7 linked regions of the Homo sapiens genome follow. The protein of the gene in region 7 purifies or fractionates together with the protein of the main gene of each other region. This does not show direct contact. Each region holds a gene or a part of one and is shown on either strand. Other genes may lie near its edges.

Region 1 (4,505 bases), on a different chromosome or scaffold from region 7:
TTAAAAAGTCTGGGTAAAACACGTTTTTCTACAATCACTGTTATAACTAATGCAACTCTATTTTCTGAGTACTAGAGTACAACCAAAAAACGGTCTGTATTTATCATTCAAATTATACTTGTGATTTTCACCTACACACAATTTTATATTTGTAAATGTAGAATCATTACTTAAAACTCAGAGAAACAAAATTTGACATTGAGGGGAAAGTAATTTGTTCACTTATAGCTACTTTTAAAGTTTGGAAACATAAAATTATGTTAAAAGAAGTGTTCTATTCATAATTCTAAGTTTACATGTCAAATTTAACATGCCCAAATAATACTTTCCTATAATGGAATGACAACCCAAAAAATACACTCAAAATAATAAACACAAAATTCAAAAAGTAACACAAAATAATCCTACCCCAGCAGTTGTTCCCTAATCTACAAAATAAGGTCAGACCAAATGATTTCTTAACTTTCAATTCTGACATTTTTTTAAATAGATAATGGAATCAAACACTAGTCACCTTTAGCTTTATATTACCTCAGAAGTCACTTACTTTTTAACCTCTCAGTAAAGATACTGAGAGTTATTTAAAAGGTATCGGCTAAGATATTATCTCCTGATCCAACAATCCCACTTCTGGGCATTTATCCAGAAGACTTGAAATCCGTATGTCAAAGAGAAGTCTGCACTCCACGTTCACTGCAGACAAGTCACAATTATCAAGTTATTCAATCAACCTAAATGTCCATCAATGGATGCATGGATAAAGAAAATGTGGCATATATACACAATAAAATACTATTTGGCCTTTAAAAAGGTAGAAATTGTGTCATTTGCAACAATATGGATGAACCTGGAGGACATTATGGTAAGTGAAATAAGCCAAGCACAGAAAGACAAATACCACATGATCTCACTTATTTGTGTAATCTAAAACAATTAAACTCACAGAAGTAGAGAGAAGAATGATGGTTGCTAGAGGCCGGGGATGTGGGAATGGGGAGATGATAATCAAAAGATACAAAGCCTCAATTAGATAGAAGGAGCATGTTTGACTTTTTTTAGATCTATTACACAACATGGTGAATACAGCTAATAATTAAGCACTGTACATTTCAATACTGCTGAGAGTAAATTTCAAATGTTTTCATCACAAAATATGTCAAATATTTGAGGTGATGGATAGATTAGCTTTATTTAATCCCACATTATATTCAAAAATCATAATGCCACTTTGTTTCTCATAAGTATATACAACTATAATTTGATATATAATAAAAAAAATCTAAAAAGGTAGTCTCCTAACAATCATATGAAGACTATCCTAAAATGTCCTTTAGTAACTGTCATGGACTGAAAAGTATCCCACGAAGAGACAATGTCTACTCAGATCATGTGAATACAAACTTACTTGGAACATGGGTCTTTGTAAACATAATTAAGGGTCTCCAGACACAATCACCCTAGATCAGGGTGGGCCCTACATTCAAAGACACTGTCCTTAAAAGGTAATGAAGAGAAGACAGAGGGAAAGGCCGTGTGAACACAGAGGCAGAGACTGGAGTGAAGATTGCTGTCTGCAATACTTGGACAAGATTTGTCCAGAAGCCAAAGAACTCCAAGAATTGCACACAGCCACAAGATATTAGGAAACAGACATAGAATGTCTGTTTATGGATTCTTCCTTAGAGCCTCCAGAAGGAACCAACTCTGCTGACACTTTGATTTTAGACTTCTGGCCTCCAGACTGTGAGGAAAATTGTTGTAAGCACCCAAGTTTGTCGTCATTTGTTATGGAAGCCCTGGGAAGCTAATACAATATGTATTTCAGAAAGGAAATCCCCCTTTTAAAGGATTATAATCAATACAATTTGTCTTTGGCCATCATACATTTCATATTAGGAATTAGTGAAAGAGCTTCATCATTTCTAGATTGTAAACAATAACCAACAATTTGATGTCTAGACAGGCATATATGAGTCTCTACTTTATCATTTACTATCTATGCATTTGTATTTTGACTTAGAATTAAAATTATATTACTGAAATGTTAAGCAACTTTTCAATCAAGAATATCACCTGACCATTTGTAAATATTTGCTAATACATTGTTATTAGGTTGGTAAAAAAGTAATTGTGGTTTTGCCATTACTTTCAATGGCAAAAACCACAATTACTTTTGCACTAACCTAATATTTCTCTCTGAAGAGAATAAATTCATTCCAGTAATATGAAGCATACCCAGTTTTAATAAACTTGTACATACAAAACATTCCCAAGCTTTTTAAGGGGCCAACATTATGAGAGTGATATGAGATATCTGAAAACAATTTTATTTTTCCATTTTTCAGGCTTTTGAAGCAGGTCTTAAGCTTTCTCAGTTCTTTGCCACTTAATTTCTTACATATGTTTAAAATATATATAAAAAAAACTAATGTAATTTGAAGACCACCACTGCACCTAAAAGAAATTCCATGTTTTCCACCTATTCAGTTGTTCTTTGTAGAAATGGTCTAATTATTAAGTCCATTTTCACAGTTCGAAATATCACTGATATTACCACATAAACCTTTGAATGTCCTGACTATTTGGCCACTGAAAAGTCTTGTTCAGAAAGATGAAAAAAGTTATGAAATTAACAACTGCATAGCAGCTCAGTTCACAAATGAGTCTGGATGTGGGAGGCAGAGGTATGTTAAGCCTATAAATGACATAAGGTAAAATGAAGTAACGAAATTCCAGCAGTTTCTGAGGAACTATAACAGTGAACAAGCATATGAAAAACATTAAATTCCAAAAAATTGACTTTGATTTCAATGAGTCAGCTATACTCCAACCAGCAAATATATAGGCTGGAACTAACAAATATTTTACAGTTTCATATCTTTGAAAAACTCTTTTCCACACATAGAAAGTATAATGTCTATTGTCTGCTAGCAAGTATTTATGAGCATAAGTGAATTTCCAAACTAAAAACACAGAGACTAAGGTAACCACAAAAAACAGAATTCTACGTTTCCAAACTAAGGAAAGAAAAGTCTTAATTTTGCTAGGAGACAGGAGATGAGGAAAGGAAAAAAAGAGAGTAAATGAAAAAAAGTAGAATAGTTGAGGAAAATGAAGACAGGCTTCATGACTACTCCGATCGCCAATAACAATTCCACCATTAACTACTACAAAAGCACAAAACAGAAATCCCAGAAGGATGTAGGGCCAAGTCAGAAGCAAAAGCATACTCAAGTTTTTAAAGGACATGGAATAAGCCAAAAGAAACTGAAGAATTTTTCTGAATTCTGCAAATGGTCCTTTAATAGGTGGAAGTCTGTCTTCCTTCTTTTGTAGCTCAGTTTTCCAAGCCTCCGTTAACTTTTGTGCAATGACATTTCCTGCACAGAAGACAGCCCAGATGATATTTGTTTGCCGAAACATGAAGCCACAAAATCCAAGGAAGGCTGAAGTTTTATGATTTCCATAAAGACACATCAAATACGCAAAAAGAGTAAAAAACATAGATCCTGCTTCTGTATAATAAAGGAAGTTAAAAAAATAAAGTGTTGGAAATACTGCTAGTGTTAATGTTGACAAGACTCTCTGGATACTTGAGGCAGCCTTGGAGGAAGAAGAAACACAGATAAAATTATTTTCATGACAAAAAATGCTATTTCTGCTTACCTAATGAAGAAATTTATTTAAAAACTACTCAACTACTCAAACCTTCTTTAAATAAAATTAATCAATATTAATCTTATCTCTGGCTTTGCAAAAACACAATATACATTTATAAGAACACTTCCTGGTACTTTTTATGTATACCTATCAGTTTGGAGACCATGTGTATGCCAAATCTTCTATAGCTTAACACAATTGGAATCAGGCAATGATTAGTTAAGGAGTTATTGAGTGCAAGATACTAACTAAGTTCTATGTGGACTATGGAGATAAATAGGACACGGTGCTGGCTCCATTTCCCTGAGCTTATGTTTTAGTGCCTTCAGTAAGGATTCACTTAGCCATAATGAACCACTTTCCTTTAAGGAAATCCTTCATAACTCTACACAAGGGAGAATATAAACATGCATATGGTATACTACCATACCCAGACTTACTTTTTCAAGATGAAATTTTCATGATGAAATAACAGGTATTTTTCTGAAAAGTGAGCCTGTCTAAAGTTATATATCTTCTTTTGGCCTTTCTGACATGCTGTTTCAGAATTTGAAAGTGTTCTTATGTTCTTGAATTGTATACTCCACTTAATCTAAATCACCAAATCAGACCATGCCATTTCCTTGATTAAAATTAAGGTCTTTACATTACATGCTAAAGTTCAAAGTCCTCTCTGTGACACATAAGGGCATTCATGACCTACTTCTCTAGCCTTACATCCCTCTACTTTTTAATCCTGTAATTCCAAGACCAATTCCCTGCAACTCGTTGTTCAATGCCTTTCTTCCTTTTCTTATGTTGTTTGTCTCCCCAGGATTAATTCCCCACCCTACACAGCCCTATCC
Region 2 (4,698 bases), on a different chromosome or scaffold from region 7:
GGAACACAGTGAGGCCCTATCCCAAAAAATAAAATAAAAAGTAAATGAAGGCATGAATTAAGACACAGTAGTGAAAGAAAAGTGGGACTGATTTATGAGGCATTAAGAAGGTAAACACAAAAGAACTCTGATTTAACAAAACAGGTAAGGAAGGAAGAGAAATAAGAAGCTAAGATACATTCCAGGTTTCTGACTTAAACAACCAGAGGTATCATGCACAGAGAATTAAGAAGGAGGAATATGGATTCAGAAGAATGCCGACAAATGGGCTGTCATTTTTGGTAGTAAGGGAAGGTTGTATGGTGTAGCTGAAAAATGAGTTCATGTTAGTTTAGTATGATGTACCTGTGTACCCAAATGGAACTGTCCAGAAATAGTAAATAAGTCTTGAACACAGTGATGAGATTTGGAAATAACAGCCCCAAGACAGTGGATGGAAGAAAGCAGGAAAAGTGAAGCAAGTATATGGCCAGGGGCTGAGCCTCAAGGAACTGCAACAAAAAGATGTAGCAAATCACATCAAAAGCAGAGTACAATTTATTCTAAAAGACACCTCAAAATCGCTCCTGAAAAAATGTGTTATGCTTTTCATTTTGGCTAATTGGGTTCTTTCAGCAGTTAATTTTATTGAAATTATTAATTTTTAATTCCATGAAAAAACACCACAGGAATCTCACATTGTTGTATTTAATTAGAATTCACTATATATGCTATTCAGTCTCGCACTTAATCCAGAAACATTCTGGAAATGAAGTATGAAACGCCCATACCATACTCACTATTATTCCAAAATCCTAGAACCATTTTTATAATCTTCTCACTTATTTTAGCAGGTAGTTTAGATTGGTTTATTGCCATAAGTGAGTTCTCTTAGCTTTTCTACCTCTCTTCCAGTGTAAATAACAATCAGGTATTTTTCTTATAGTGAAAGATGTATAGGACCATGAACCAGATTATTTGTTCACTGTAACTAGCTCAACAAAGGACTGTTACTAAAAATTTTTCTAAGATACAGAAATGGCTAGTTATGCAGGCCGCTTTTCCTACTAAACAAAACAAAATCTCTTTAGCGTAAAGGCAAAACATAGCAGTTAATTTCTGAACTATAGCCAAAATTTCCTATAATCTAGGTGTCACATACAACAGTACAATGTGGATATCAGTATAACTGTAAATGTGAAAACTTGGTGTGGGGGGAACAATTTCTGAGGAAGCACTAACTGACCTGAAGTTTCAGAGGGGCTAGCAAGATACATGGAGAGGTGCTGCAAGATTCATTCATCCCTAAATGCTACTGAAAACCCTACTTTGTGACTGTAACCATCTAAAAAGAAATCTGTCTCCATACAGGGAGTGTAGAGTTGCGTTAAAGATTATAGCCAAAGAACCTCCCTTTCAGGACCTTTTTGATAATCTACTTCCAAACTACTTAATTTTTAATGTTTTGATTTACACTTTTTTTGTGTGTGAGACAAAGTTTCTCTCTTGTTGCCCAGGCTGGAGTGAAATGGCACAATCTCAAAACAAATAAAAAGCCCTAGGCTCTTCATTAGTTCCATGGGTTTTCCAGTATCTAGCAGAGTTAAAACAAAGTTGCTCTTTCTTTTTTCTTTTTTTCTTTTCTTTTTTTTTTTTTTGAGACGGAGTTTCACTCTTGTTGCCCATGCTGGAGTACAGTGGCGCCATCTTGGCTCACTACAACCTCTGCCTCCCAGGTTCAAGCAATTCTCCTGCCTCAGCCTCCCGAATAGCTGGGATTACACGCATCCGCCACCATGCCCAGCTAATTTTTTGTATTTTTAGTAGAAACGGGGTTTCACCATCTTGGCCAGGCTGGTCTCAATCTCCTGACCTCAGGTGATCCACCTGCCTTGGCCTCCCAAAGGGCTGGGATTACAGGCATGAGCCACTGCGCCCAGCCCAAAATTGCACTTTCTAAAGAAAAACAATGTTCCACTTAATTGTATTTCTTTGTATTCTTCCCCAGAGTGTCTGATTCCTCTCTACCTAGGCAAGAAGAATACACATGTGAACAGGTAAAAATTCAACTAAAAAGAGACAACTTGGCCAGGCGCGGTGGCTTATGCCTGTAATCCCAGCACTTTGGGAAGCCGAGGCAGGTGGATCACGAGGTCAGGAGTTTGAGACCAGCCTGGCCAATATGGTGAAACCCTGTCTCTACTAAAAATACAAAAATTAGCCAGGTGTGGTGGCAAGCGCAGGTAGTCCAGCTACTCGGAAGGCTGAGGCAGAATTGCTTGCATCCGGGAGGCAGTGGTTGCAGTGAGCCGAGATGGTGCCACTGCACTCCAGCCTGGGCGACAGAGTGAGAATCTGTCTCAAAAAAAAAAAAAAAAAAAAAACAACAAAAAAAGAGACAACTCAAGCTTAGCTTGCTCCCTCAGACAGAGCAGTATGTGTGAGACACTCCTCTGAGTGCCATGTCATTGGCAGCTGGGCACCATAATGGGACTGTGATGCCGTCAGCATTTTTCATTGGTTCTACTGCCCAACTTGGAGTTGGCTTACTTCCCCTTTCCAAAGTCTTAATTTCACCAAGTGAGATTTATAACCATAGAGAAAGAGGCGTCAAATGCCTTCCCCACCCCCAACCCCACCACCTGTTGAAATGACCTTAGAATTTCAGCCTTTTATAGTAAAACTGAGTCCTGTTATATTGAAAATCCTTCAGGGAAATATTCTATTACTTCTGGTCTGTTATTAATTTGTATCCCACAACAGATCCTAAGCTACTTTGAAACAGCTGACATTTTCTCTCTCAGTCATTATCTCCAGTCCCCAGGACAGAGCCCAAAACAAAGCGTGTTAGATAACTTGGTAAACATTTGTATAAAGAGAATTAACAGTAAGATGTGTAAACTCACTTACACCTTAGTGTGAATGAACTTCTTCAGGCCCTTTCCTGAGAAATTTTGGGTAGATTATCCATTGCGTGGGAAGAGTTAACAGAGCCCTGAAGAGAAGTGAGCCTAAGAAAGGCTCCTCCTCAGTTCTGCCTAGAAACATTGTCCTGCTGTGGATCAATCTAAAAGTTCTTCAAAGGAAACCCCAGACTTTTGCTTGAACGGCATATGGAAGTATCTTGTTCTTCTATGGAAGTCTCTCTACACTTCAGAAATATAGTTTGAGACATTAATAATTTGCAATTGTTTATTCACCACAAAGTAGGACCAAGAAACAGGGACCCTTCTTTCTAATCCCAGAATGCATGGTAGAGCACTCAACCAATCACTAACACTTAAATTAATCAACAACATAAAAAACATCGTATTTGCAGAATGTTATCTAGTCAATGCAATATGATGAATGATTAAAACCCAGCTCCTGGTGCTTGCTTCAGCAGCACTTTGAACAACAATCTACTAAAATTGGAATGACACAGAGAAGATTAGCGTGACCCCTGAACAAGGATGACATGCAAATTCATGAAGCATTCCATATTTTAAATAAATAAATAATTAAAATAAAAATCCCAGCTCTTAGAGTCAGATAAGCCTGGGGTTGAATTCTGGCTCCACTTCTTACTTAAACTCTGTAAGCCTGAGTTCCCATATCTGAAAAGAAAGATATTAACAAAGTCTATCAGAGAATCGTGGTAAGGTTTAAATAGGAACGCATCTAAAGTGCTTAGCCACAGGAAAGTACTCAAGAAATGCGCACCATCATTTGGAGACCTAGATTCCATTCCACCACCACCTCCCTGTATATCCTTAGGCTAGTCACTTGCTATAAAGAAGTAATGGAAACAAGGAGACAGAACTAGCTGTACTCTAACACCAGGATTATCCATCATGAGTACGGTAATAGAAAATAGACCAAAACTTTGAAAAATAAAAGGCTTAAACAAATTCCAGATATTTTTTGGCATGTATTTGAAGCTTGCATATGCTTGATCACAGACGACTCAGCATTCGAATATCAAAGTGAAAAAGTGTGACCAATCAAACTTCAAAGCAGATATTCTCAAATAACAGTGACTGTGGTAGATGAGGGACTTCATGAAACACCTTTGTGTGTGTGTGTGTGCACTGAAGGAAAGAGAAAGGGGTAGGGGACAGGGGAAGAGAGAGAGATCTCAACAATAACTGGCTTAAAGACTATCTTGTAACCATTTTTTCAGCACTAAGTTTAAATCTGTTTTCTTCCTCAGCCCTTAACATCTATCAGTCATATATGTATTACCTAGCACCCAAGTAATGGCCATTGTTCAATCTAGATGCTGTGTTATACAGGGCCATTACAAGTGCATAGGGCCCTTCTGTAGGAATCAGACAAAGGGCACCCAGAGCCCAGGCTGGTTTTCAGTCCCCACTTACCCCTGAGTTGGGCACCCTTGTGCAATGGCACAACCATAAATAGATATACAGCAGTCAGGCAGAGAAACACAAAGATCTTCACACATTTAACTAGCACACCTGTGCAACTGTTTATATGATATATACCCACACATACACAAACATGACTGAAAAAGTTGTCAAAGACTGAACTGAGTAAAAAGAAAAAAGATATTCATCAAAATGGAAAACACAAAGTTCCACAGAGTGCAAAAGAAAAACCAGGTTCCTTCCCTCACTCTCAGCTACCCAGTATTGGGATATTGTGTAGCCAATTAGAACTTTGGGGACAAGTAGTAGGTAGAGACTTTGACACTGCAAAATTCTCATCCCTGGCAAAGCT
Region 3 (4,698 bases), on a different chromosome or scaffold from region 7:
AACTATTTCACACATCCTCTGTGGACAGCAGCAATTAAATTTTTTTAAGATCTTCTATGATCCAGTCTCACTCCAAACTCTGCATTCCAACCATACGGAACTGGCACAGCTGCCAACATGCCCCAAAATTTCAGGCCTCCTTAATTCAATCCATCATGCCTAAGAATATCTCCTTCCATATCTGGTCGACTTACTCTGGTACTGTCTCATCTCAAAAGCTTTTTCTAGTAGGTACCCTGGCTGCCCAAGAGCAAGATCAGATACCTCTCCTCAGATGCACTTGGGACAAACTTTGACATTATCTGTGTGTCTATGTGTGTGTTTGTATATATATGTCTGTCACACCCAAAAGGTTACATCTTCATCTCTGTAACACTTGTCTTTGGCTTTCCTATTTTCTGTATTACTAACAGTGGAAGAGGGTAATCTTTTGCCCAGAAGGGACTGAGGATATGGCCCAAACACAAAACTTCTTTGAAGCCTCATTTTAGGGCCTAAAATTTTAGGTAAATATTGTCATGTTTATTACAAAAGTATTGTTTTAAATTATTTGCTTCTGATTAAAACTGACATCCCCAGTGAAACATTCTGTGCCTTTGTGAACCTCTGGGCTGGGAGATTCATGACGTCTATGTGAAAAAGCATGATCCTAAGAATATATAAATATCCAAATGGCTGCTACTGTAAATGGTTATCCTTTAGTAAAGTACAACACAGTGAAAATAATATGGTTTTCGTCCCTATGTGGGGAATCAGTGTTACATGAACTCTCCTTCCCCTCCAGTATCACACTCTGCTCTAGTTCAGGTTCTTATCATCCCTCATTTCAGATCTTACAAAGGCACAGCTGGTACACCTGCTCCATGTCTCTTCCACATTGGTTCTAAAAACTCAAATATAAATCACGCTTTTGTTGTTCCAGTATCTCCAATGGCCTCCGACTGCTTAGGTTCTCTCCTCAGCTTGACAACTGTATCCTTTCTAACCACGTCTTCTTTACCCTCCAGACCTCAAACACTTGAATTTCCCTCTAATGGGATTGTAAGTCACCTCTGAAATTAGGTTTTCCTACCTCCTCTTCCCTTAAACTGTTTGGTAAAATTGGACCGCCCTTGTCTACTTAAAAAAATTTTTTTTTAATTTTTAAAATTTTCTATTTCTTTAAAAATTACAGACAGTGTCTCACTATGTTGCTCAGGTTGGTCTCAAATTCCTGGGCTCAAGCAATCTTCCTGCCTCAGCCTCCTAAAACGCTGAGATTACAGGTGTGAGCCACTGCACCTGGCCCTCTTGTCTACTTCTAAAATAAATGAGACATGTTAGCCTTCAACAACCCTGATGAAATAAATGTCTCCTTCACGGAACTTGCCTAACAGTCCAAGACAGAAACTCTCAACTGACTTTGCACTTTCTTATTGCGTATCTGTGCCACTTATTCCAGTTCATCTCTTCTACCAAATAGCAGGAGAATAGGGGACACATATTCAAATTCTCTTATCTAGCAAAATAACAAGGGCTCCAGAGAAACCGATTAAATATAAAATCTTCTATAAGGTCAAGAATCTTAGGAATAATAGTAGCAGCACTATTCTGCTCTTAACTGCATAGGCATTTCCCTCTGACTTCTAAGATGATTTTGCATTTGCTTTATTTTTTTAGTAAACTGCTACAAATTAGAGGCTGTCTGATATCTGCTGCTAGACAAAAATGTTGTCTCTGTAAGTTTGATTTCTAACTCCTCTGGTATTATTCGAATACATGTTTAATAAAGAATAATAGCTGACCTACCTAGAATGAACTTCCTACTTTTATCTCAGCTGCACTAATACAGGTTGAGTAACTCTCATCAGAAATGTCTGGGACCAGAAGTGTTTCAGACTTCAGATTTCGGACTATTTATCATTACACTTCATTGTTGTTAGGGTTCAGGATCCCTAATTCAAAAACCCAACATGTGAAATGCTACAATTTTCTTTGAGCATCATGTTGACACTACAAATGTTTTGGATTTTGGAGCATTTCTGGATTTTAAATTAGGGATGCTCAACCTGTAATTCATACATTATTTGAACAAAAACTTGTTCAATACAGTATTCTTTCCATTTAATAACCCTTCCCTCCAATATATTTTATCTAATCTTTTGATCTTTAGATGAAAAAGGAAAACAAAAACAGCTGACTTACCACCCAAGAGCCTCTCATCATGAAGTTCATGAGAACAGGCGTTCTGCTGATTGCTATGGCAGACAAAGCTGTTAAACCAATACTCCCTGCTAAGTACATATAGGTGGAATGAATTCTATCCTTGACATACTGAGGCCAAATTCTGTAAGAAACATGACATGATTAATCTATGAAATTACAGATTTGATTTCTGGTTGAGTCACACACTAGCTGGGCGACCTCGGGATAAATCATTTTACACTTTAAATCTTATTCACTTCATTTATCATGGAAATAATTATGATAATTATGCATACTTGGGAGTTACTGTAAGGACTAAATGAGATAAAACATACAAGCACATATAAAAAACAACATATTTTTGGCTGGGTGCGGTGGCTCATGCCTGTAATCCCAGCACTTTGGGAGGCTGAGGTGGGTGGATCACCTGAGGTCAGGAGATCGAGACCAGCCTGGCCAAAATGGTGAAACCCCGTCTCTACTAAAAATACAAAAAATAGCCGGGCATGGTGGCATGTGCCTGTAATCCCACCTACAGGAGCCTGAGGCAGGAGAATTGCCTGAACCCAGGAGGCGGAGGTTGCAGTGAGCCAAGATCGCGCCACTGCACCCCAGCCTGGGAGATAGAGCAAGACTCTCTCTCCAAAAAAACAAACAAACAAACAAACAAAAAACATATTTCATATTTTCTCTTTGCTTAAACACATATAACCTTGCTAAAAGATTTTTATTTAGATTTGAATAAATAAATGTCAAAGAAGCAAAAAGAGATTCTCTATTTGTGTGTATACACAAAGACTAGACACAAAACATTCCAAAGTGACTAAAGATAGGAATGAGAAGAAAATTTGAATTTTTGTTTTAAGGCTGGAGTTGTTTAGGAACAGTTTACTTAAAACAATTTACTTACACAGCCTTTTCAATAGCTCCAATCTCATTAGACAGTCCCAAGCCATAGTAGCACAATGCTCCAAGACCAACAGCAGCCCCTCCAGCAACAAACCATCTTCCCATCTGATCAACTGCAGAACACAGAAGGAAATGCAGGTTAGTACTGGCACATCTGGACAAAGCCTTTAAAATATTTATCAAGGGAATCAAATCATGTACCATATTTAATAGAAGCCATAATCAGTGCATATGGGGTACAGAAATTGCCTCAATGTTAGGTAACCAGTAGAAAAAAACACTCCTGAAACAAAGGTGTAAAAATCAGTACAAAAAAGAAAGGATCAGGCTTGGTGAATCTTCAACCTCCCTCCAACAATATTTGAGGGAGCAGTATACCTGTAGACGTGGAGCTACTTCTGTGATACCTATTATTTTACTAATAAGAGGTTGAAGTATATTCACATGACATTCATGGAAAGTAAAAAATGAGAAGGAAATGTTAACAGTCATACCATACTGCATGGTATTAACACAAATGATGCTTTACGTGGAAATCAAGAAAAAAGAGAAAATATAATCAGTGTTTATGCAGCAGAATCAAGTGAGAGGAGGCTCCCGTTTTAGGGTACTGAGAGGCAACTAATCAACTCTAACTCAATAGAGGTATTCATAAAGGGCATCTTATTCTTTTAGTCTAATTCGTTTACTAAGAATATTACTAGGCTGTCACTACATAATTTGCATGATTTGGTCTCTAGGGTCAAATCAGAAAGAAATGACCTGAAGGATACTGATTAGGGCTCTCTCCCACTGTAAAGACATTTTGCAAGATTATTAAGGAGCAGTGGTATTCTTTGAATAGCTTTAGGATGATTAACAATCTAGTTTCTGAACTTGCAAAGTTGATATCCAAACTGAACCAAACTGGCAATATATTAAAGTACTGCCCTCCTGAGGCCCTATGTGAGCAGTGAGTTAAAGGATTCTTCTTGGACAGCTAGGCTTTTATTAACATCTATGTGTTGGTGATTTATTCTTAATCTGAAACATACACAAATATTATATGCTTGAATGAGGATTCTACACACTTAAAATGAACTTTCTCAACAGAGTATACCTTTTGGACCATGGCATATTAATAATCCTTTTCTTTAAAAAAAAGGAAAGTAAAATTTCCACTGGAAGAAATATGATTGATAACCACTGAATCCAGTGCAAAGTACCAATCTTTTCTGGGTCGTCAGATCTCAGAATAATAATGTGGTCTTCCCAGAAAATGCACAAATACACATATATTTTTAGGAAGTTGTTCATGGACCTCTTAAAACATATCCATAGATTCTAGGTTAAAAACTAAAGATAGCCACCTACTTTTAAATATTTTTTCCATCGATGGTTCCAATGCTGCCTCTTTGAGTTCTTGGCCAGTTCTCCCACGCCGGATCCCAATTCTTGTTTTGGTGGCATATTCCTGACACACATGCAAACAAAGACACGTACCACCCACATGAAAACAGAACGTTAATAAAATAAAATGCAAGATCCCTTTACACTAGAAAACTCTAGTTAAAGAAACTTGGTACTTTCTATATACCTAACTTCACTATGGAAATTTATTAGCCA
Region 4 (4,698 bases), on a different chromosome or scaffold from region 7:
GATTGCACTGTGGTCTGAGAGACAGTTTGTTGTCATTTCTGTTCTTTTACATTTGCTGAGGAGTGCTTTATTTCCAAGTATGTGGTCAATTTGGGAATAAGTGCGAGGTGGTGCTGAGAAGAATGTATATTCTGTTGATTTGGGGTGGAGAGTTCTGTAGGTGTCTATTAGGTCCATTTGGTGCAGAGCTGAGTTCAAGTCCTGGATATTCTTGTTAACCTTCTGTCTTGTTGATCTGCCTAATAGTGACAGTGGGGTGTTAAAGTCTCCCATTATTATTGTGTGGGAGTCTAAGTCTCTTTGTAGGTCTCTAAGGACTTGCTTTATGAATCTGGGTGCTCCTGTATTGGGTGCATATATATTTAGGATAGTTAGCTCTTCTTGTTGAATTGATCCCTTTACCATTATGTAATGCCCTTCTTTGTCTCTTTTGATCTTTGTTGGTTTAAAGTCTATTTTATCAGAGACTAGGATTGCAATGCCTGCTTTCTTTTGCTTTCCATTTGCTTGGTATATCTTCCTCCATCCCTTTATTTTGAGCCTATGTGTGTCTTTGCACGTGAGATGGGTCTCCTGAATACAGCACATTGATGGGTCTTTACTCTTTATCCAATTTGCCAGTCTGTGTCTTTTAATTGGAGCATTTAGCCCATTTACGTTTAAGGTGTAATATTGGTATGTGTGAATTTGATCCTGTCATTATGATGTTAGCTGGTCATTTTGCCCATTAGTTGATGCAGTTTCTTCCTAGCATTGATGATCTTTACAATTTGGCATGTTTTTGCAGTGGCTGGTACTGGTTGTTCCTTCCCATGTTTAGTGCTTCCTTCAGGAGCTTATGTAAGGCAGGCCTGGTGGTGTCAAAATCTCTCAACCTTTGCTTGTCTGTAAAGGATTTTATTTCTCCTTCACTTATGAAGCTTAGTTTGGCTGGATATGAAATTCTGGCTTGAAAATTCTTTTCTTTAAGAATGTTGAATATTGGCCCCCACTCTCTTCTGGCTGTAGAGTTCCTGCCAAGAAATCTGCTGTTAGTCTGATGGGCTTCCCTTTGTGGGTAACCCAACCTTTCTCTCTGGCTGCCCTGAATATTTTTTCCTTCAGTTTAACCTTGGTGAATCTGACAATTATGTGTCTTGGGGTTCCTCTTCTCAAGGAGTATCTTTGTTTTGTTCTCTGTATTTCCTGAATTTGAATGTTGGCCTGCCTTGCTAGGTTGGGGAAGTTCTCCTGGATAATATCCTGAAGAGTGTCTTCCAACTTGGTTCCATTTTCCCCATCACTTTCAGGTACACCAATCAAACATAGATTTGGTCTTTTCACATAGTCCCATATTTCTTGGAGGCTTTGCTCATTTCTTTTTAGTCTTTTTTCTCTAACCTTGTCGTCTCGCTTTATTTCATTAATTTGATCTTCAATTACTGATACCCTTTCTTCCACTTGACCAAATCGGCTACTGAAGCTTGTGCATGCATCACATAGTTCTTGTGCCATGTCTTTTAGCTCCATCAGGTCATTTAAGGTCTTCTCTACACTGTTTATTCTAGTTAGCCATTTGTCTAATCTTTTTTCAAGGTTTTTAGCTTCCTTCCGACGGGTTCGAACATCCTCCTTTAGCTCAGAGAAGTTTGTTATTACCGACCTTCTGAAGCGTACTTCTGTCAGTTTGTCAAAGTCATTCTCCATCCAGCTTTGTTCTGTTGCTGGTGAGGAGCTGCATTCCTTTGGAAGAGAGGAGGCACTCTGGTTTTTAGAATTTTCAGCTTTTCTGCTCTGGTTTCTCCCCATCTTTATGGTTTTACCTACCTTTGGTCTTTGATGTTGGTGACCTACAGATGGGGTTTTGATGTGGATGGGGTTTTGATGTGGATGTCCTTTTTGTTGATGTTGATGCTATTCCTTTCTATTTGTTAGTTTTCCTTCTAACAGGTCCCTCAGCTGCAGGTCTGTTGGAGTTTGCTAGAGGTCCACTCCAGACGCTGTTTTCCTGGATATTACCAGCGGAGGTTGTAGAACAGCAAATATTGCTGCCTGATCCTTCCTCTGGAAGCTTCGTCCCAGAGGGGCGCCCACCTGTATGAGGTGTCTGTCGGCCCCTACTGGGAGGTGTCTCCCAGTTAGGCTACACAGGGTCAGGGATCCACTTGAGGAGGCAGTCTATCCATTCTCTGAGCTCAAACGCTGTGCTGGGAGAACCACTGCTCTCTTCAGAGCTGTCAGACAGGGATGTTTAACTCTGCAGAAGTTTCTGGTGCCTTTTGTTCAGCTATGCCCTGCTGCCAGAGGTGGAGTCAACAGAGGCAGCAGGCCTTGCTGAACTGCGGTGGGCTCCACCCAGTTGGAGCTTCCCCGGCTGCTTTGTTTTCCTACTCAAGCCTCAGCAATGGCAGACACCCCTCCCCCTGCCAGCCTGCTGCCTGGCAGGTTGATCTCAGCTGTGCTAGCAGTGAGCAAGGCTCTGTAGGCGTGGGACCCACCGAGCCAGGCGTGGGATGTAATCTGGTGTGCCGTTTGCTAAGACCATTGGAAAAGCGCAGTGTTTAGGTGGAGGTGTCCCATTTTTCCAGGTACAGTCTGTCACGGCTTCCCTTGGCTAGGAAAGGGAAATCCCCCAACCCCTTGCGCTTCCTGGGTGAGGTGATGCCCCACCCTGCTTCAGCTTGCCCTCCATGGGCTGCACCCACTGTCCAACCAGTCCCAATGAGATGAACCAGGTATCTCAGTTGGAAATGCAGAAATCACCTGCCTTCTGCGTTGATTATGCTGGGAGCTGCAGACCGGAGCTGTTCCTACTCGGCCATCTTGGAACAGACCTGCACAAAGTAAAATTTTTATATCAACTTTTGCATAGACTGTTCAGGTTCATGTTACTTTTCTTTGCCATTGTTCTGTTGTAGGTATATGCCAATCTAACATCTTGTCAAGCTCTTGGAAATATGTGTGTGATGAACATGAATTCTTACGACTTTGCCACATTTGATGCATGTGGACTATTTCAGTTTATCTTTGAAAATACTGCTGGACTGAGCACTGTTCATTCTATTTCATTTTGGTAAGGATATTTTGATTGATGAAATGTTATTTTGACTGAATTCAGTGCAGTTATTAATATATTCACAAATACTAATAATAAGAAATATTTATTCTCCATTATTAAAACAGTTGTAACTGTTTATAGGAGACAGAATCTTCCTTGGCTGTTTTATGGAGACCAGTTAGGATTAGCACCTCAAGTGCTCAGTTCTACCTCTCTTCCTACAAATTTCAGTTTTAAAGGAGAAAACCAGGTAAAAGTGTCTAATATCATTAGAGGATAACTACATTTTGATTTATAATTTTAAAAGGTAATAAAGTTACAATTCTTGCCTTTTTAGGTTGTTGGTACAAACTCAGTTACTAAACTAAATATAAATGTCAACAACTCATAAGAACTAAATAGTATAGAGTTTAGCTATCTTACTGAATATGTGGATACTTCTGGATTGTGTGGTTATGGCAAGAAGTTGTACTTGTAGGGTTGGGAAGAGCAGTTTTCATCACCAAATGCAAAAAATCTCTGTCCTGTTTTTTCCACACCTTAAAGAAGTGCTTCCAAAGATTGATTGGGGCTCTGTGACATTGCTCAGCACTTCACAGGGCCAAATTCCTACCTGTAACTTTTTGACCTTCCAGAATGAGGAGATACTATTCTCCCACACTGCCTCCTATTTAACAGGTTCAAAAGGAGGCTATCTGTCACTAGTGCTGCCTCTCAATTCTAGAATAATAATTTTCATGCAAAAAACCAGTCTAATTCTTTCAGGTCTATTTAGTCATAGAAATAGATTAATTGAACCTCAAAATAAAGATAATTGAATGTAATTTTTCAACAAAAAAGATCAGTCAACAATGAAAATTTCTTTATAGGATATTGTATTACTTTCAGAGTATTTGACCTGATTTTGCTCGTTTTCTTTAATCAGAATACAAAACTGAAGTTTGTTGCTGCTTCCTATGATATAAGAGGAAATTTTCTCAAGTGGCAAACTTTAGAAGGAGGTGTTTTACAGGTAAGCATGATTCTAGTTAAAGAATTAATAACATGCATTATTTTTGCCTGAGACAAAGCCAAGAGGAAAAGATTATTGTATGAATAAAGCATCAGTTACATACTACAGTTGATTTTTTTTCTGATGCTTTAAATTAGACTTTCTTAAGTTTTTTGTTTGTTTGTTTGTTTGTTTGTTTTTTCTTTTTTTTTTGAGATGGAGTCTCGCTTTCTTAACCAGGCTGGAGTGCAGTGGCGCGATCTCAGCTCACTACAAGCTCCGCCTTGCGGGTTCACGCCATTCTCCTGCTTCAGCTGGGAGCTGGAACTACAGGCGACTGCCACCACGTCCAGCTAATTTTTATGTACTTTTAGTAGAGACGGGATTTCACCATGTTAGCCAGGATGGTCTTGATCTCCTGACCTCGTGATCCGCCCTTCTTGGCCTCCCAAAGCGCTGGGATTGCAGGCATGAGCCACCATGCCTGGCTAAGTTTTATTTCTTTAAAGTTATGACTTTCATTTATAACAGATGTTCCCTTAACTTTTCATATCCTTGATACATTAAATAAGTATTATGTAGAGCATATATCCATGTTCGGGTTTGAGAACTCTTGAGTATAAGAATAGAAAACATTTGTGAGATTTATCTGTTGTATTATTTTGCTGCA
Region 5 (3,455 bases), on a different chromosome or scaffold from region 7:
AGCTCCGCACCCCAGGCGCGGCCCCCGTGCTCCATGTGCAAGCATGGCACCACCCCGGGCCCAGCTCCGCCTGTGGCCCTTCTCTGCCTGGTCCTCCATGCACAATCACGCTGCTCCCCCGCCGGCAGGCAACTCAACCTGGCCACATTGCGGCGGCCCCCCGGGAGACAGGCTCCAGGGGTATCCCTGCAGCAGGCTCCAGGGACTCTCCGCCCTCCTGGCAACAGCAAGCAACAGTGGTGGTAACGCGGACCAGGGTCCAGAGCAGTGGTGGCTCCAGGCCTGGAGGCAGGCCCCACTCGGCCACACAGGGGTGGGGGCGGCGCAGTCGGCTGCCACAGGGACACGGGGCACAGGGAACGTGGGGCACAGGGGTCTCACCATCACCACGGCTGCTCCTGCAGCCACCACTCACACCTCCCTGCTACGGCCGGCACAATGGCAGCAGCCACTCCAGACGGCCCACTGCTGCCATCACTAGGTACCAATGTGTTTCCATCACTATTTCCCTCATGCTGACACCTTCCTGTGGAGGTGTCATTTTCTAATAAGCAATATTTTCCCACATCAGCTGGGATTCATAACATTTTGAAAAACAAATTACAATTTGAAGGTGGGGGACACCTTTTTATGGACATTACACTTTACTAAATATTTCCCTGGGTTTCTCTATAACTAAAAATAAAAACTATAAGGAGATACAAAATTTCTTAAGTGATCATAACTGGAAAGCAAAATTGCAGAAGCTACTGATTTTCTTGCTTACTCTAATTTTTCTATGATGATCATGCATTGCTTTGTGTATTAATTTGTCTTCACACTGCTGTAAAGAACTACCTGAGACTGGGTAACATATAAAGAAAAGAGGTTTGACTCACAGTTCCGCATGGCTGGGGAGGCCTCACAAAACTTCATCATGGCAGAAGGTGAAGGGAAAGCAAAGCACATCTTAACACGGTGGCAGGAAAGTGAGCGAGCAAGGGGGTAAATGCCAAACACTTTTAAACCATCAGACCTCGTGCAAACTCATGAAAACAGCATGGGGGAAACCATCCCCCATGATCCAACCACCTCCCACCAGGTACCTCCCTCAACACGTAGGGATTACAATTTGAGATGAGATTTGGGTGGGTGGGGACACAGAGCCAAACCGTCTATCATTTTGCATGATTTTTAGCATTCTAAGATCAAAAAGAAAAACATCACTTTCAAAGTACATGAATGATACCAATAATAGAAAAGAATATGACATTTTATTTTCACTTATGGACATACAGTACATGAATTTAGAAATAAAATCGTCGCAGGATTCTGAAATACTGATACCTTAAGATCTAACACACTGATATTAGTCCATTCCCTACAAAGCAGCCACATTAGCAGTTCAGATTTGGTCTTTGTTGTAGCTGTTGACATTAAGTTCTTTAAGTGAAATGCCCAGCAGCATTTAAATAATATTTTACAGCAGACATGAACTAAGTTTCAATATTCCATCTTTGGAACAAATTATGCTTATTTACATGTTAACAGGTGGCTATATTTACTTACCCTATTGTGAGTTTAATGACTGATTTTAAACTACAGAGGGTTTTCCAGCTATTATTTCCTTTAGTTTCTAAAAGTAACGACTTATATTAATGTTTTATAAAAGATAGTGATGAAAAAAAGGTAATGCTGAAATAAAGGCGCTTTTAGAAATATTTAAGGACAACATAAGGTATTAATATTGGAAAAAAACTGTACATATTTTCAAGCACAACACTGAAATATTGCAGCAGTGTTTAACTGAATTATTTAAAATAGTGGTAATTATACTACCTTACATACCGTTCTAATATTTAAATCTCTTAATTACAATTTGAATATACAATCTGACTTACAATTAGAACTATGCACAGTTTCCGAAGCATATTTTTCAGGTTTGTTTTTGCACAAAAATTAACGTTTAAGTTGGTCCTTGATTTGGAGTACTATAACTACCTGGAAGCACTAAGTTTTAGACACATTCATTGATAGCCAACAAAATCCTTGACAGAGTGAAAAACATCAAGAGTACCATGCGTGAAAAAGCAGCTGTTACCCTCCAAGTGCAATATGAAATCTAGAACAAGACCCTCTCAGAGGCCTGCGTGTCTCAATGAGTGACCCTCAAAGAAACCAAAATGTATAGGAGGAAGTAGCTGACCAGTCATGGGCATCTTCCACATTGGGATAATCTTTAAAACAGAGGCAGCTTTGGACCTCTAGCGTAAGAGATAGACTTTACATTCTTTGATTTTATTTACACTTTTTTAAAAAGATAAAGTATATCTGAATTCTCTCATCACACCTAAACTGCTGGTGCACTGGCAGTTCAAGCTGATTAAAGTCATGAGGCAGCCCACCAGAGACTTTAAAGAACCCCAGACCTCATCCTCCTCTTTCCTATCATGAAGTCACAGACTGTCTCATCAAACTACTTGATGTCTGTAAGAGACTTACATTTTATAAACACAGTTAGCTTATTACTGAACTTTTAAGAAAAGTCCAAAGATGTGTGGAAAAGTATGCCTGCTAATAGTGACCGCTTCTACAATGACAATAATGAAACTGAGCTACAAAAATAATTTTGCTGTTTTAAATAATGAAAGGAGCTAGGTTTTTAAAATATATTACTTATTCTGCAACAGCTAATTAAATTGACAATCAATAGAATACAATGAACAGATTCAGCTTCCATTCTGCAAGCTGAATTCAGGTTATATTTTAATTACAGAATAGCTTCAAATTATAAATCTAACTGTCCCAATAGTAAAGAGACCATCAAGGCAGTAACATCAGATCAATTCTGTCATCATCCTGCATGGAGCACAAGATGTGCTTTTGGATAAAGGCATTAAAAAGACCTTGGGCTGATGTGGAAAGCGGGTCAGTAAAGACTCCAGTTCTGCACAATGGAATCTTCCAAGCCAAGCCGCTTTCCACAAATACAAATTCAGTCTATCTTTTCTTTCTGGACCAGTCTGGGAGCATCGACAAAATCTTTGCCATTGTAAAGAATGATAAAAAATGTTCCAATGCTTGCAACTCCCCAGAAGAGCACATAGGCCAGTGTTTCTGTCCAAGTGTCACCTGTTGATATTAAGAAACAAAAAGCTAAATAAGTCGTTTGTTGATATCAGACCCAGTTTTCAGCTGTTTAGCACATTTTGGCAACATTAAAGTTTACTAGCACATTCACAGGAAAAATATAAGAACCTCTTAATTAAGGTTTAAACCAGTGGTTCTCAAACCCTGGCTAGTACCAGAATCTTCTGCAGGGCTTGATAAAGCATCAACTGTTGGGCCCCAGGAATCTGCATTCTAGCAAGTTCCTAGTACCCAGGTGATGCTGATGCTACCGATCAAGAGGCTACACTTTGAGAACCACTGGACTAAATGATTTCATATTATATTATACAAATAATAATGATCAC
Region 6 (4,698 bases), on a different chromosome or scaffold from region 7:
TTCTGAACCCAATGACATGTTGTGGAAAAAGTCAAATTAGCCTCAGACTACAAAATGTTTCTGAATAGAACTCTTCCGTCTTACTTTAATTATTCAAATTTGAAATACTTTGTCCCTACTACTTGTAGCAACTAAGTTCTTCAGACTTCAAACAAGCTCCCTGAAGTACAGTTAGCACAATCCAAGTTACTCATTAGCAATACGTTTTCTTTAGAGGAAAAAGAGTCCTTTCAGGAGCCTTCTATAGCTAGTTAACAAGCTCTGCAGTTCTCCGCATTTACAGTGAATGGACGCCATCCAAATTAAACAGGGTACATCCCTTTCCCACTCACTCAGCATTTTGAAAATCTTCCAGTTTGTGTTTACGCAACTTACAAACAAATACCTATCACTGCAAATGAACCATTCAGAATGACTATTAAATAAAGCAGTCTGTCAGGGAAGGCAAACGAGAGGCCACAGTCACCTAAGATTCTACCTTACCTTTGTCATAGTTGTGTCATCTTTCTTGGGAGTAAAGTTTCCAAAAAATCGAAGGCTATAGAAGCCGACAACAGAGGACACCATAAGATAGCTGTGAGAATCAAGGAAAAAAACTCTCCAACAGAATGCAAGTTTCCTAAGTTCTCGGCAGTCTCCAAAAAGTCTTAAGGCCCATAGGAAAAGCAAAACAAAAAGCCGCTTTAAGTGCTTGAGGAAGACTAACCTGTTGTTTTCTCTTCTAGACAAGTGTCTTAGTAAATAACTACTGCCCCAGAAAACTTGGTATAAAATTTGTGGATAGGCTGAACGTTCAGTTAAAGAAAGGATACAAAATCAAAATGATTTCAAGCGCAGCTCCCACAAAACCAAACGTAGAAAGAGAGGCATTTCCTATTCCAGGCCCCTGGGGTGGGAGAAAGACACTTTTCAGAATTTGATGACACCATTATATTGGTTTCCCTAAAACAGCTGTTTCATAAAATAAGACAGTTGAAATTATGAATGTTTACTACTTTGAAATAACATCTAGACTTTCAAAGGCCAACAAGACATGACATTAGACTGATTTCATCAACAAATTCAGGCACCATGTTAACAATTTTAATAAGCTCAAGAAAAATTACTTATCTCAAATGTAATTTAAGTTACTTGTCAAGATGACATGATTATGCTTACTGTTATAAAATGGGGCAACTTGCCACTTGAGGAAAAAAATCCTGAATAGTTTTGGGAAAGAGTTTTTAAAAACACAATAGAAAAATAAGAATAGGATACATAGCTATCTGAATGCTTACACAATATACAAAGATTACACAATTCAAGTATGTCAAAATTAAGCTAAGAGTAGAAAGAGAGTAAATGTGCATATCCTGTTCCCATACCTGAAAGTTTCCTTTGCCCAAATTTTCCTTGGGAATTCAGAGTTACAAAGGATGTAACTGTTAACATAGATTTTTAAAAAAGTAATGCTATAAATTTTTTCCTAAACAATTATCCCTATCTCAAAAACTATCTTTACCTAGAACTTAAAAAAAAAACACAAAAAAGTTACTATTTTTATAATTAGATCTGAAAAAATCATTCCCTACTGAAGTATTTTCAAAGATTACTAATAAAAGAAACTATCTGAATGTTTTACTAGTCAGCACAGATTACATCTAATAGAAACACCAGGGATAATTAAGAATCTACAGTCAGCCCAATAAAAAATAACTTTTTGACAATCTTTTGAAGAAGAAATAAATGATGCTGGTAGAAAGTGATGGGGTTCAAGACACACTACTCCAAAATTTGGGACCTGGTATTTGAGAAAACCTAGGAAGGTCACACACTGATCTGTCTCCTTCTCCTGCGAAGCAGGCCATAAGACCCCCATCCAAGGGTGCCCCCCGCAACCCACCCAGAGGAGAAGCACATGTTTATCTCCGGAGACACGAGGACACCGAGAAGAATATGAACAGGCCTTGCTAAATCCCCCCGGTTTATAATCATTAGATCACACCCCTGTCTTCCAATCATACTTCCCACTACTGTCCACTCTTCAACAAACCAGAGCATAAAAGTACACAGCTTTTTCTGTTTCTTTGGTCTTCTTTATTTCTGAAGACCCCTGTGATATGTAAAACTTATCTTAAATAAGTTTGTCAGCTTTTCTCTTATTAATCTTTTGTTATAGGCATCTCAGCCATGAACCTTCCAATAGGTTAGAAAAAGGTATTACTTCTTCTCCCCTACAGAAGCTTATTGATCAACAGAGATAATACTTTGGAATTATGCTATCTCAAGAGAAGCCATGTAGGAAGGATTAAGAGTATCTAATTTTTTTACACAATTATACAGGGATCTCCTATGACGTACAAGTCATTCTCCACTAAGCACTAAGGGGGATGGGTACAAAAATATACTATAGGGCTTGGGACTTGTTTTGTTGGTATAGTAAAATGGGTTAAAAGTGACTAGGAAGTCAGTATAGTAAGCGACTTCCTGTTCTATCAGTGGGTTTGGGTATAAAACTAAAGAAAAAGATAAGACTGTACATGGCAAAGGGTAGTTTCTTGTCTGTCTGTAGGATGAGGCACCTGGAGCATGATGGTGGGCTTGTACTCATGGAGAAGAGGCTGTAAGTGAATACAACAATGGCAATAACAGATGGCACAAGGTCCTGGAAAGACTCAGGTGGGGGGATCTGAATCAAGACTATGGCTAAAGGAATTTCATATAGCTAAATGAATTTCAGTAAAATCAAGATAAACTCTGATAAGAAATCTAAAAGGAAATTCCAACACTTGAAAAAAGGCCCTGTCAATCCAAAGTAAAAAATTAGAAACAAAAATCACAGTTTATATTTTAAAGGCTCTTTGCATAAAGAAATTCATACAACTTGAAGTATATACATGCACAAAGGTGAATGTTTTCATTTGCTTACTTGAAATACTCAGGGTATAGACATAGAATACTTTTGCAAAAGAAAGACATTTTAAAGGATTTTACTTTACCCTTGTTCCTTTTGGCATTGCTGTTTCATCAACCAATAGGCAAAGAATATTACAAGCCACCAAGAGGACCGAGATGGACTACAAGACAAACAGCAAACTGTCAGCTCTCAAGATTTTTCACCAATACAAAATATTAAAATCTAGGTAACCAAATACACGTTTCAGAATAGAGGGAAAGCAGTCAAGACCAAAACGCTATATATAAAACTAAAGTAATCAGACTACAAACAAGAACTGAAGAAATTCTAAAAGATTCTGCAAGTTATTGTCATTTCAAAGCTTGTGACAAAAGCTGGTAGTATATAGATCCTTTTACTAAGTGATCTCACCAATTGGAAACACACAACTCCACAGACTTAAAAAAGTGGTAAAATATTATCAGAACTAACTTCATAATGTAATTTTCATATTTTATCACAGAATTTAAAGCAGGTTATCTGCAACACCTTGTTTTCTTAATTTTCAATGAAAACAAAGACTGAATTTCCTGCTTTCATGAAGAAACAGATAATCTTCAGAATTTTTTTTAAATTGCCATTAATTTCCATTTTTGCTTTATTGGATTTTCATAAATAAAGGCATAGATGGATTTTAATCCTGTTGATAGAAAACTAGTTTATGAAAAACCATTTAGCTGAGGGAGCTGCCATACTCAAATGCTGAAGTAAATAAAATATAATTTGCTTTTATTTAACTAGGCAAATAAATTCTTACTGTCTCAATAAGAAGGAGAACCATAACAGCGGGATACACCAAATTTCTTTCCCATGCTGAAGCCTTTTTTCGCCTCTCTATTAAAAGGAAAAACAAAATAAAACAAAGTTTTCTCCAAATTAACATTTTCCTTCCATAATGCTATAATCTGTTTTATACATAATTTCTTTTTAAAAAACATAAATTACTTTTAATTTTCCTCCATAAACTAAAAAAACTACAGATAGGGCCTTGCTCTGTCACCCAGGCTAGAGCACAATGGTATAGCCGCAGCTCACTGCAACCTCCTAGGCTCAAGTGATCCTCCCATCTCAACCACCCAAGTAGCTGGGACTACAGATACATGCCACCATGCCTGGCTAATTTTTTTATTTATTTTTTGTGGAGACAGGTTCTTGCTATGTTGCCCAGGCTGGTCTTGAACTCCTGGGCTCAAACGATCCTCCCCGCTCAGCTTCCTAACATGGTGAGATTACAGGCACGAACTACGATACCCAGACAAAAATCAGAGTTTTAAAACCAGTTTGCTACATTAAACACCTCAATCCTGTGATGCGTAAATTTCAGCTCTGTGAAGACATCTCAATCATTAAGGAAATATATTGTTGATATACAGCTGACTCTGAAAATACAGACATACAGTAGGCCTTCTATAGCCACAGGTTCTGCAATAATTTTCTACCATATGTGGATTTTGGTACCCATGGGGGTTCTGAAACCAGTCCCCCACGAATACTGAGGGCTATATTTGTATTTCATATAGATCTACATATTGATATATATATATATATCTGAATGAATAAAGTTATATGAATAAAAATCCCTTCTATTCTTTTTTTTTTTTTTTTGAGATGGAGTCTCGCTCTGTCTCCCAGGCTGGAGTGCAGTGGCACAATCTCGGCTCACTGCAACGTCTGCCTGCCGGGTTCAAGTGATTCTCCTGCCTCAGCCTCCCAAGTAGCTGGGACTACAGGCACATGCCACCAAGCCCGGCTAATTTTTTGTA
Region 7 (4,698 bases):
GCCAGAGCAATGGTCAGGCAGACATAAACTGTACATGGGTCGGATAAGAGCCCCAAGGGCATCTGCCAGTATAAACAAGCTTCCTGTGTGAAGGTTCCCCTGGTCAAGGGTCAAACAACTAGGCATCAGGCCATCCACTGAAGGAAAAGTATTGCGTGAACACTGTAAACCCCTACATCCAGCTCCCATTCATTTTCTTTTTAGGGCAGGGTTTTTAACCACTCTGGTACTGAAATCCAAATTTAGTTGGGGGCTCTCAAAACACTTATTCATTTTTAAAATATTGTGATAAAAATACATAAGATGAGATTTACCTAGAAAACCCCATCGTCTCAGCCCAAAATCTCCTTAAGCTGAGAGATTTACCTACTTAACAAATTTTTAGATACAGTACAGTATTTACTGTAAGCATAATGTTGTACAGCAGATTTCCAAGACATTTGCATCTTGCATAACTGATACTTTATGCCCTTAAATGACAACTCCCTATTCCCCTCTGTCCGCTGTCCCTGAAAACCACTATCCTACTTTCTGCTTCTATGAGTTGACTTTTTTTTAGATATCTCATATAAGTGAAATCAGACAGTGTTTGTTCTTCTGTGCTAGCCCAAGGTTCATACATGTTGGGTATGACCTTTTTCTTTCTTTTTTGAGGCTAATATTCCATTATAGGTATATAACATATTTTGCTTATTCATTCATATGTAAATGAATAGTTAAGTTGCTTCCATATCTTGGCAATTGTGAATAATGCTGCAATGAACATATGGGAGTGCAAATATCTCTTCCAAATACTGATTTCAATTCTTTTCTGAAGAATTGAGATCCCATAACTGAAAATACAGAATCATATGGTAGTTCTAACCTCCATAGTGTCTTCATGGTGAGTGTAGCATTTTATATGGCCACCAACAATATACAAGGGTTCCAATTTCTCCATATCCTTTGAACACTTATTATTTCTTGTTTATTTATTGATTGATTGATTGATTTATTTATTTATTTTTGATAATGATAATCCTAATAGGTATAGGATGCTATTTCATTTTTTACGTGTTTAATCCTCCATAAAACACTTCATATTTTATCTCCTTTTCTTACCTTTTTATCTCTTTTTCTTCCCTAATTGCTCTTGTTAGAATTTCAAGGACTATATTGAATAGAAGTGGTGAGAGTAGAATCCTTATCTTGTTCTTGATCTTAAAGGAAGAGTTTTCAGTTTTTTATTGTTGAGTATAATATTAATACTGGACTTTTCACATTAGTCATTTATCAGTGAGCTTTATATGTTCATATGCTCTCATGCTGCTCTTTAGTGCCATTTTTTAAAGTTCAAGGTTTCCCTTTGGAAATAATAATAATGGAGGTGGGGTGCTGACAGACTCACTCAACTTTTGTTTGTGTGGGAAAGTATTTCTTTTCATTATTGAGGGATGGTATGCAAGATACAGTAATTTTTGTTAGCCTTTTATTTTTTCATCTCTCTGAACATATCATCCCACTCTCTGTTGGCCTACAAGGTTTCTGCAGAAATCTGCCATCCCCCAATCGTCTTATGGAGGACATTCTCTTAGTATGTAACAAGTCAGTCACTTTATCTTGCTGCTTTCAAAATTCTCTCTTTTCTTTGATAATTTAATCAGAAAATGGATTAATATGGAATTCTTTTTTACTTTTATATATTTGGTTTTTAGTCTTCTGACTATATTAATTTCACTTAATAGTCTGAAATTCTTAGAATCTGTCCATTTATCCAATTGTCAATTATATGTCATTGACTTTTTATAACAATCTTTTGTATTGATATATTTTGGAAAGTGTTTTTCTTCTCCTTAGATCTTCCTTCAGGGAAGCTGAAGCAAAAGTTGATGAGCATGTATATGTGTGAACTTCAAAAAATGGTGAAAGGTGAGCAAACATACAAATATTCTAAAAATGTTAGTGTTTATGGGAATTTTAGTGTCCTTAATTTCCAAAATAATTACATATTGAGTGAAGACAGTATAGTGTAAAAGGAAAGTAATATGGTATAATGGCTAGAAGTGCAAGATTTAATGTCAGATTAGTGTTCAAGTTCTGATTGTACCATTTACTAATTATGTGATCTTTTAAAACATAATTTTACATTTAGTTAAAAACCTTTTTTTTTTTCAACTTTCATTTTAGGTTAGGGGTACACATGTAGGTTTGTTACATGGGTAAATGTCACAGTGGAGCTCAAATAGCCAAATCAATCCTAAACAAAAGGAACAGAGTGAGAGGCATCACACTACCTGATTTCAAACTACACAACAAGGCTACAGTAATGAAAACAGCATGATACTGGCATAAGAGCAGATACATAGACCAATGCAACACAGTCATTAGATAACCCAGAAATAAAGCCACATATCTACAACTGCCTGATCTTTGACAAAGCTGACAAAAGCAAGCAATGGGGAAAGACTCCCTATTCAATAGATAGTGCTTGGATAACTGGCTAGCAATATGCAAAATTTTGAAACTAGACCCCTTCCTTTGACCATATACAAAATTCAACCCAAGATGGATGAAAGGCTTGAATGTAAGATGTAAAAGTGTTAAAAACACAGAAGAAAAGAGGAAATACCACGCTGAACATCAGCCCTGGCAAAGATTTTATGATAAAGACTCCAAAAAGCAATTGCAACAAAACCAAAAATTGAAAAGCAGGAACTAATTAAACCAAGGAGCTTCTGAACAGCAAAGGAAGCTAACACCAGAGTAAACAGACAACCTATAGAATGGGAAAAAATATTTGCAGGTTATGCATTTGACAAAGGTCTAATGTTTGGACTCTATGTGGGACTCAAATAAAGCAACAATAAAACAAACAAACAAACAAACCCATTAAAAATGGGCAAAGGACATGAACTGACAGTTCTCCAGAGAAGACATACACATGGCCAACAAGCATATAAAAAAACTTATAACATCACTAATCATTTGAGAAATACAAATGAAAGCAATAATGAGATAGCATCTTACACCAGTCAGAATGGCTGTTATTAAAAAGTCAAAAATCAACATGCTGGTGAGGTTGTGGAGAAAAGGGAACACTAGTAGACTGCGGGTGGGAATGCAAATTAGCTCAGCCACTCCAGCTTTGTTCTTTTTGCTTAGGATTTCTTTCGCTTTATGGGTCTTTTTTGATTTTGTGTAACTTTTAGGACTAAAAAAAATTCTGTGAAGAATGTCATTGGTATTTTGATAGAGATTGCATTGAATCTGTAGATTGCCTTGGGTAATAGGGACATTTTAACAATATTGGTTCTTCTAATCCATGCACATGGGATGTCTTTCTATTTTTTGTATCAGCTTATTGTTTTCATTGTAGAAATCTTTCAGTTCTTTGGTGTAGTTTATTACTAGGTATTTTACTTTTTGTAACGAATTGCAAATGAGATTGCTTTCTTAATTTCCTTTTCAGATTGCTGTTTATTGAAATATAGTTATGGTAATTATGTTTTATGTTGATTTTGTATCCTGCGACTTTACTGAATTTTTTGTTTATTCAGATAGATTTTTGAGAGGGTCTTTGGGTTTTTGTAAATATAAAATTATATCATATGCAAATGAGGACATTTTGATTTCTTCCTTTCCAATATGGATTCCTTTTATTTTTTTCTCTTGCCTAGTTGCTCTGGGTAGGACGTCCACTACTGTATTGAGTAAAAGTGGTGAAAGTGGGCATACTTGTCTTCTACATGATCTTAGAAGAAGAGCTTTCATTTTTTTCCCCATTCTCTATGGTGTTAGCTGTGGGTTTGTTACATATGATCTTATTGTTTTGAGGTATTTTCCTTTTATGCTCAGTTTGTTGAGAGCTTTTATCATAAAGAGAGAATTCGAATTTTATCATATGCTTTTGGCGTCTGTTGAAATGATTATATATTTTTGTCCTTGATCCTACTAATGTTATGTTTTATGTTTATTGACTTGCCTATGCAGAACCATTCTTGCATCCTTGGGATGAATCACACTTGGTCGTGATGAATGATCTCTTTAATGTGTTTTAAAATTTTGTTTGCTACTATTTTGTTGAGAATTTTTACATCTATGTTCATCAGTGATGTTTTCTTTTTTGTGTGTGTTCGTTTCTGGTTTTGGCATCAGGGTAATGCTGGCCTTGTGAAATGAGTTTGGAAGTATTCCCACCTCCTTTATTTTCTCAAATAGTTTGTGTACAATAGGTATGAGTTCTTTAAATGTTTGGTAGAATTCAGTTGTTCTGAAGCTATCAGGTTCTAGATTGTTCTTTGATGGAGGACTTTTTATTACTGCTGGTGTCTTGCTGCTGGTTATTGCTCTGTTCATGGTTTGTATTTCTTAATGTGTCAACTTGGTTCAATCAATATTCTATGTGTCAAAAAAATTTATCCACCTCTTCTAGGGTTTTCAATTTATTGGCATAAAGTTGCTCATAATAGTCTCTAATGATCCATTGGATTTCTGTGATGTCAGTTGTAATATCTCTTTTTTATCTTCAATTTGATTTATTTTTGTTTTCTCTATTTTTTTCTTAGTTTGCATAAAGCCTTGTTGATGTTGTTTATTTTTCACAAAACAACTTTTGACTTGTATTTTTTGTATCAATTTCGTTTATTTCTTGCTCTGATCTTTATTATTTCTTTCCTGCTGCTAATTTTGGGTTTCATTTGTTGTTGCATTTCTACTTCT

The links.
Region 1: the proteins of SLC22A9 (region 7) and ALG10 purify together in Homo sapiens (affinity purification with mass spectrometry; 3 studies listed by BioGRID and IntAct, with this or other methods). This does not show direct contact.
Region 2: the proteins of SLC22A9 (region 7) and SLC16A10 purify together in Homo sapiens (affinity purification with mass spectrometry; 2 studies listed by BioGRID and IntAct, with this or other methods). This does not show direct contact.
Region 3: the proteins of SLC22A9 (region 7) and GHITM purify together in Homo sapiens (affinity purification with mass spectrometry; 3 studies listed by BioGRID and IntAct, with this or other methods). This does not show direct contact.
Region 4: the proteins of SLC22A9 (region 7) and TMEM67 purify together in Homo sapiens (affinity purification with mass spectrometry; 3 studies listed by BioGRID and IntAct, with this or other methods). This does not show direct contact.
Region 5: the proteins of SLC22A9 (region 7) and SACM1L purify together in Homo sapiens (affinity purification with mass spectrometry; 3 studies listed by BioGRID and IntAct, with this or other methods). This does not show direct contact.
Region 6: the proteins of SLC22A9 (region 7) and LMBR1 purify together in Homo sapiens (affinity purification with mass spectrometry; 3 studies listed by BioGRID and IntAct, with this or other methods). This does not show direct contact.

What each region holds. Positions count from the first base shown.
Region 1 is NC_000012.12:34,024,961-34,029,465, reverse strand, and holds the end of ALG10 (dol-P-Glc:Glc(2)Man(9)GlcNAc(2)-PP-Dol alpha-1,2-glucosyltransferase), read right to left. Parts: intron 3,604-4,505; coding exon 2,551-3,603; 3' UTR 1,164-2,550; downstream 1-1,163. UniProt on the Homo sapiens protein: Dol-P-Glc:Glc(2)Man(9)GlcNAc(2)-PP-Dol alpha-1,2-glucosyltransferase that operates in the biosynthetic pathway of dolichol-linked oligosaccharides, the glycan precursors employed in protein asparagine (N)-glycosylation.
Region 2 is NC_000006.12:111,089,981-111,094,678, reverse strand, and holds part of SLC16A10 (monocarboxylate transporter 10), read right to left. Parts: intron 1-4,698. UniProt on the Homo sapiens protein: Sodium- and proton-independent thyroid hormones and aromatic acids transporter.
Region 3 is NC_000010.11:84,142,503-84,147,200, reverse strand, and holds part of GHITM (growth hormone-inducible transmembrane protein), read right to left. Parts: intron 4,547-4,698; coding exon 4,447-4,546; intron 3,207-4,446; coding exon 3,095-3,206; intron 2,327-3,094; coding exon 2,185-2,326; intron 1-2,184. UniProt on the Homo sapiens protein: Plays an important role in maintenance of mitochondrial morphology and in mediating either calcium or potassium/proton antiport. Mediates proton-dependent calcium efflux from mitochondrion.
Region 4 is NC_000008.11:93,777,696-93,782,393, forward strand, and holds part of TMEM67 (meckelin isoform 1 precursor), read left to right. Parts: intron 1-2,897; coding exon 2,898-3,052; intron 3,053-3,178; coding exon 3,179-3,287; intron 3,288-3,962; coding exon 3,963-4,049; intron 4,050-4,698. UniProt on the Homo sapiens protein: Required for ciliary structure and function. Part of the tectonic-like complex which is required for tissue-specific ciliogenesis and may regulate ciliary membrane composition.
Region 5 is NC_000003.12:45,743,189-45,746,643, reverse strand, and holds the end of SACM1L (phosphatidylinositol-3-phosphatase SAC1), read right to left. Parts: intron 3,112-3,455; coding exon 2,975-3,111; coding exon of another isoform or gene 2,909-2,974; 3' UTR 1,235-2,908; downstream 1-1,234.
Region 6 is NC_000007.14:156,724,952-156,729,649, forward strand, and holds part of LMBR1 (limb region 1 protein homolog), read right to left. Parts: intron 3,770-4,698; coding exon 3,693-3,769; intron 3,057-3,692; coding exon 2,979-3,056; intron 887-2,978; coding exon 813-886; intron 575-812; coding exon 484-574; intron 1-483. UniProt on the Homo sapiens protein: Putative membrane receptor.
Region 7 is NC_000011.10:63,400,116-63,404,813, reverse strand, and holds part of SLC22A9 (organic anion transporter 7), read right to left. Parts: intron 1-4,698. UniProt on the Homo sapiens protein: Sodium-independent organic anion transporter, exhibits high specificity for sulfated conjugates of xenobiotics and steroid hormones such as estrone 3-sulfate (E1S) and dehydroepiandrosterone sulfate (DHEAS).